Homo sapiens: one gene and its partner. The protein of the gene in region 1 purifies or fractionates together with the protein of each later gene. This does not show direct contact. Each region holds a gene or a part of one and is shown on either strand. Other genes may lie near its edges.

Evidence for each region. The genes of interacting proteins can lie anywhere in the genome.
Region 2: the proteins of ROPN1L (region 1) and AKAP9 purify together in Homo sapiens (affinity purification with mass spectrometry; 2 studies listed by BioGRID and IntAct, with this or other methods). This does not show direct contact.

The regions. Positions count from the first base shown.
Region 1 is NC_000005.10:10,444,879-10,448,378, reverse strand, and holds part of ROPN1L (ropporin-1-like protein), read right to left. Parts: intron 120-3,500; coding exon 1-119. UniProt on the Homo sapiens protein: Functions as part of axonemal radial spoke complexes that play an important part in the motility of sperm and cilia. Important for male fertility.
Region 2 is NC_000007.14:91,999,862-92,003,361, reverse strand, and holds part of AKAP9 (A-kinase anchor protein 9), read right to left. Parts: intron 2,515-3,500; coding exon 127-2,514; intron 1-126. UniProt on the Homo sapiens protein: Scaffolding protein that assembles several protein kinases and phosphatases on the centrosome and Golgi apparatus. Required to maintain the integrity of the Golgi apparatus. Required for microtubule nucleation at the cis-side of the Golgi apparatus.

The DNA.
Region 1 (3,500 bases):
TGTGCAAAACTTTCAGGAGTCCTTGAGTCAGGCCTGTGTCTGTTTTCTGGGTTGCCGTGGGCATTTCCATTCTGTCCTTTACAGGAAGTGGATCTCCTCTCGACAGAGCTGAAAAATAGCTAATAAATAACAGACATCTCTGAAAGCTCATCAATACACAAAAAACAGCTATGCGATCCAATTTCTTAAATAACCCCCCAAAACAACGGTGATTAGGAAGGACAGCTCTGAAGACCAACATCCCGGGCTTATGTCCTGGTTCCTCCACTTGGTTCTCTGACTTAACCTTCTCTGCCTGCCTTAGTTTCTCTGTTGGCAAAGGGGATAATGAGACTCCCTGTTGGAGGGTTGGGGAGCATTGTGTGAGAAGGGCTTGGCGCAGTGGCTGGCACTCGCAGAAGCTCCTTCAACATGTGTGATTCTTCCCCTCCTCCCTGCCACTTCACAATCAGCTGGAGTTCCATGTATTATTCTTTCTTTTTTTTTCCTAAATTTTTTGAGACAGGGTCTCACTCTGTCACCCAGGCTGGAGTGCAGTGGCATAATCATGGCTCACTGTAGCCTCAACCTCCCAAGCTCAAGGGATCCTCCCGCCTCAGCCTCCTGAGTAGCTGGGACTACAGGCACACACCACCACACCTGGCTAATCTTTTTAATTATTTCTTACAGAGATGTGGTCTTGTTCCATTGCCCATGCTGGTCTGGAACTCCTGGCCTCAAGTGATCCTCCCAGCTTGGCCTCCCAAAGTGCTGGGATTATAGGCGTGAGCCACTGTGCCTGGCCGTCTTCCCACTTTTGACAGGTGGGTTTGGTCTTGCTGCTTTTTGAGGTGCTTGACTTTAAGCGTCTCTGCATATTCAACCCTGAGGCAGCCCAGGAACACACAGGTCACCTACTTCCACACTGGGAATGGCAGGTGCTGGCCTGGCTCCCATCCCCCCACCCCCACTTTTCCTGCCTGGTATTGTTCCCCTTAATTGTTCCTTTCTGGGACACTGATATTGCTGCTTATGTTGGGGGCAAGAGTGGGAAACTGTTGGGGCAATAAGTCAAGAGGGAACCCACACCCAGCCTCTGGCTCGTGGTGGGAGGGGTGCCAGGCAAGACCTTCTGAGAAACTCACGCCCCTTGGTATCTTTGCCAGAGGTGGCGATGCTGAAGCCACATCATTTGGGGCCCTAATGACTTTAGCATGATGAAAAGAGACAGCATATCCAGGCAAATGAACATCAAAGCATCCACCAGGGCCACAGATAACAATTTTAAAGCCATGGGTAGTTAGAAACATTGCTACAGATAAATATGGATAAGTCGATATCTGATAGACTAAAATAAACTTCATATCTCATCCTTTCTCTCTCTTTACACCCCTCAAATTTGACTTTGTTTCCTTGCTTTGTAAGACAACTTCAGCTCCATTTTGTGGCTTTGTTAATGATTTGAAGGCAGCAGTGAGTTAGACAAATGTGAACCTAAAGACCTAAAGGGTGTGGGTGAAGAATAGGTGCCTCGTTTTGCCACATTCCTACTAATCAAGGTTTTCACCTATTTCATGGGGGTAACTCCTCATAACTCAGGCAAGGAATCCCGAGCTAGATACAGCCTCTGGAGGCAGAGTTCTCAGTGGGGGATAATGCTCCTCCTCTTTCCCCCACCCGCCACCCTCCTCCCCAGCCAAAAGGCATTTGGCAATTTCTGGAGACGCTTTTTTTTTTTTGAGATAGAGTCTCGTTCTGTGGCCTAGGCTGGAGTGCAGTAGCGCCATCTCAGCTCATTGCAACCTCCACCTCCCAGGTTCAAGCTATTCTCCGGCCTCAGCCTCCTGAGTAGCTGGGATTACACATGTGCATCACCAAGCCCAGCTGATTTTTTATATTTTATTAGAGACGGGGTTTCACCATGTTGCCCCCAGGGTGGTCTCAAACTCCTGAGCTCAGACAATCAACCCGCCTCAGCCTCCCAAAATGCTAGGATTACAGGCGTGAGCCACCGCACCCGGCCTGGAGACATTTTTGATTGTCACAACAGAGGGTGGATGGTACTCCAGGCATCCAGTGGGTGCAGGCCAGGAGGCTGCTAAGTCCCATCATGCACAAGATGCCCCTTCCTCCTGTGCCCTCCCCAACTGTCAGTAGGGCCGAGGCTGGAAATGCCTGCTTTTGAGGTGAGACCAACTAATGTTAGCCTCTGCCAGTTCCTTGAGGCACACGCCAACCAAAGCAGCCTCTATTACTTGACTGATTCTTATGTTCATTGTCCTGTGTGAGGCACAACTGCACAATGGTGTCATAAGGAACAGCCGACTCCCCTCACAGTGGAGTCCACAGGCTTAGGGGGAGGCTGGCTCATCTTTGATATTTGCCCACCTGAAAAGCACCTTTGAAAAGAACCCTAACCTGAGGAAAGAGGAATGCCTACTTGCTTCATCTTTTTTGTTTGTTTGTTTTTTCTTTTTTAGACAGGCTCTTGCTCTGTCACCCAGGCTGGAGTAGAGTGTTGTGAACATGGCTCACTGAAGCCTCCAACTCCTGGGCTCAAGTGATCCTTCTGCCTCAGCATCCTGAATAGCTGGGATTACAGACATGCATCACCATGGCCGGCTAATTTTATTTTTAGTACAGACAAGGTCTTGCCACGTTGTGCAGGCTGGTCTCGAGCTCCTGAGCTCAAGTAACCTGTCCGCCTCGTCCTCCCAAAATGTAGGGATTACAGGTGTGAGCCACCGTGCTCAGCCTACTTGCTTGTTCTATAGCAGTTATGTCCGTGGGTATCCTGGTTTCCTGTTTTGGTTTTGATGGTTTTTCTTTTTCCTGTCTCCACCCCCTTCTTCCTGTGCTGCTTCCTCTTCCTGGAATCCTCTCCACCCCACCCAAGCCCCAATCTCTCTGCCTACAAAATCTCTCAAGGACCAAGCCACTACTTTGCTTAACTTTCGTGACCCTTCATTTTTGCACTTACCAAGTCCCGCCTTACTCAAGTTACTTTTGAATAGCTCTCCCTAACAGATTCTGTCCTGTGACAGCTGAAACATATTTGAACCTACAATTACATATATACTGCCGAATGAATAATACCTGGGTTTTCTCCTAAACTCACAAATTGTTCTTGGTCAGGCGCGGTGGCTCAAGCCTATAATCCCACCACTTTGGGAGGCCAGGAGGGCAGATTACTTGAGGTCAGGAGTTCCAGACCAGCGTGGCCAACATGGTGAAACCCCCGTCTCTACTAAAAATACAAAAATTAGCTGGGCGTGGTGGCACGCACCTGTAATCCCAGCTACTTGGGAAGCTAAGGCAGAATTGCTTGAACCAGGAGGCAGAGGTTGCCGTGAGCCTAGATAGCACCAGTGCACTCCAGCCTGGGCCACAGAAAAAGACTCTATCTAAAAAATAAATAAATAAATGGCTCTTGAGAGAAATTAGTAGCATGGTACATTCGGAAAGTTCCTGATTAAGTCTCTTATTTATTTATTTATTTTTATGATGGAGTCTTGCTCTAT
Region 2 (3,500 bases), on another chromosome or scaffold:
TACATCAGAGGGTTCATTTTCATTCTCTTGTAAGGATATGAACTTATGTTCTATGAAGGTGAAACCTTAGTGTGAAATGTACATTTTTTTCATTGTGCTTTACCATATATGAAGAAGTAAACATACCTGTTCTGATTTAAGTACATTGAGTTCTTTCTGAAGTTTATCATTTTCACTTGGTTGAGTTGCTCTAAGTGATGATTCCTTTGTTACAGATGGTAAGTGATCCAAAATCAACTGTTCTTGCTTACTTTCTTCTCCAACAGTCATATTTTCAAAAGAAACTTTATCTTCCACCATTATTTTTGATTCTTCACCAAAACTTTTATTTACTTTAGAAACTGATCCTTCAGCACCCCTGCTTGTCATGGTCACAACTCCATCTAATAAAGAGCTTACTTGAGTATCACATGACTGTACATTTTCTGCCCTGTTGTGGTTAATAATGATTTCTAGCTCTCTACATCTCAATGAAACTTGTTCTTTCTCTTGCTTTAAAGATTTAACTTCTTCATTTAGAAAACTAATCTCACCATGTTTCTGTTTCAATTGTTCAGAAAGATCAGACAGTCTCTGTGACAGCTCTAATTTCTCTCGCTTGGTTACCTCAAGTTTTTCCATGAGTTCTGTTGTATCCTTTTCAACAACCTCACCCATTTCCAATGTTTCTGCTACAAAAGTTTTGTCTTCATCAAAGACAGAACTTTTCATTTTCACTGTAGTTGGATTTATTCTTTGCAAATGAAGCTCTTCATTAAGTGCTTTAAGTTTACTTTTATACTCTAATTCCTGTTTATTTTTACTGTCTTCTAAATCATCTTTTACTTTGAGAAGGCAAGCATACTCCTCTTGTAACTCTTGATAGTTAACTTCAAAGTTTTTTTCAGCAAATGAAAAAGTGTTCCTTTGCTTTTCAATCTCTTCATTTAGCTGAATACATTGTTGTTTGAGGTCCTCATTTTCCTCTATAAGTATTTCTATTTCTTTTTCCCACACAGAGTCTTTGGATTTGGACTTAATGGAGTCTAAGAAAATCAATCTTTCTTCTTGGCTAACAGGAGTATGTATTTTCAACATGTCTTCAAGGGTTTTCTTTTCATCTTTAAGAATGCTATTCTCTGCTTCAAGTTGTGCAAATTTTTCTTGAAGATCATTCTCTTTTTCCTTCATCTGTTTTTCTAACAATTCTGTTTTAAGTTGTAATTCTTGAACTTCTTGTTCAAGTGTACCCTTTTCTTTTTCTTCTTGTCTGAGTATTTCAATTTCTTTTTGAAGTTCATTGATTTGAAGAGTCATTTCTTCTGACTTTGAATTTACAAGAGACTGCTGTAAATCTTTTAGCTTTGAAATTTCCAAAATTAATTGATTCTGCTTAGTTATCAAATTGTCCTTTTCAAACTGCATGGTTTCTATCTTTTGACTCATTTCATTCTGTAAACCATCTATCTGCTGTTTATAGTGAATGCCTAAATTATCTTTAAGTTTTTCAATATTTATTCGATGTTCAATTTCTAAATCTTCCTTCAGTTTGGAAAGCTCTTCTTCGTGACTAAATAGAAGCTGTGTTCTCAGCCTCTCTAATTCAGCTTCTTGTGATTCAGCCATTCTGTCTAACACAGCATTCTTTTCTTTTTCTAACATTTCAAGTTTTATCTTGTAATTTGTAACTTCTGCTTCATGTTTTAATTCTAGTTCCTTTCTGGATTCAGATGCAGAAACAATCTCAGCTTTCAAATCTTCCACTGTACTAAGGGACTTATGTGCTTCATTAAGTTTACTTTCTTGTTCAGCTATTGTCTGTCTAGCTCTCTGAATCTGTTCCCTTGAAAAGCTCAATTCTTCAACAAGGTCTTCAAGCTGTCTCTGTAGAGCACACTTTTCTTCTAAAATTAGTCCTAGTTCTTCCTTGAGTTTTTCCTTTTGAGAGTTAGTATCTTGCAATTTTATATTCAGTTCATTTATTGCCACATTCATTAACTTTATCTGATCTTCATTAACTGTAATATTTGAATATGACCTTAAAGCATTCTCCATTTCTCCCTTATGCCGTGTTTTCATTTCCTCCATCTGTGCCATGTGTTGTCTTATTAATTCTTGTTTCATTTGCACTATCTGCTGCCCATACATCTCATCCAGCTCTGCCCGGAGTTGTTCTAACTTTCTTTGTGTTTCTTGTTCCATTCGTTGTACTATATCAGTTTCGAACTGGCTGTCTTTATGATTTCTCTTCTGAAGTTCTTCGACTGTCCCCATTAACTGTTTTATTTCTTCAGAAGACTGTCTTTCTTTTTGCTTAGAATTAGTCAGCTCTAATTTCATGTTTTTTATTTCTTGGTTCTTTTGCACAATCTGTTCTTGTAATTCTCCTAGTAATTTATCAGCAGTTGTTAATTTATCCTTTAGCTCAAGAGTTTTCTTTTCTTCTTCTATTATTTTTGTGTTTAATTCTTCAATGATTGTCTCCTTTTCCTGTATTTCTTCTTTATTTGAGTTTTCTACTTTTTTATCTTGTTCCTTTAGGAAAAAAAATGAAAATGTAAGAATGGCATTTTTAGCTTCTGGCAAATTATACTGCTTCATCTCATTACCAAAAGACTGACAGAAGTTTCTCTTTTAAAAAATTCTACAAAAAGTAAATGTTGGTCCTGCCCCTCAATTTTTTCCACAATAATGACACTTAGAACTCGTGTAACCAACACTACTTGTGAGCAAACACTACAGTAGTTTTGGCCTTCTTAGAAGAAATTTCTCTTAACATTTCTGTGATTAAAATTTTTAGTTTAAAAACCCAGTCTGATTTTAGATGTCTCCAAACTGTTACATTTTCATTTTTCTTATTAACTGATCAACATTCTAAATATTTAGTATTCTCTATAGCTAAAGTACTGCATATACTCTAGACACATTCAGAAAGATAAAAATAAATAAAAGTTCCTCACATGTATTCTGGTGACTTCAATGTGTGTCATGGGCAAGGGCTATGGAAAAAGAAAAACAACAAAAACAGACTCCTAACGGTCTGTCTTAACTTCAGTCCTGGGCTCTTAAGTCAGTCAGAAATTTAGAGATATGCAATGCTTAAAAGGCTGAACCTCAAGTGACATCTAAGACAACTATACCATTTATGGCATAACAACTTGGTCCTAGGACTTTTGGTTTAAACAGAATTTTCAAAGCAAAGCAGATACTCTCCCCCAGTTCTTATTTGGGATTCTATTTTGGAATGGAGATAGGGCTACGCCCAGACACAGGCCAAGGCATATCTGTTATGGTGATTACTTCAGCATGACAAAGTCAAGCAGAGGCCCTAGGTCAAAGTTTTGCTTCAGTAACTTACTTGCCTCTGTAAGTAATAGAGGGCTATAGTCTCAAAAACAAATAAATACATGAAATCTACAGAATGGATCAGGACATAAGTAGGTAAGTAAAATCATTTTAAAGAGACAGGAGTCCCAGGCAAACAGGACTTAAAGGTGCCTTGAATGAATGAATGAATGAAT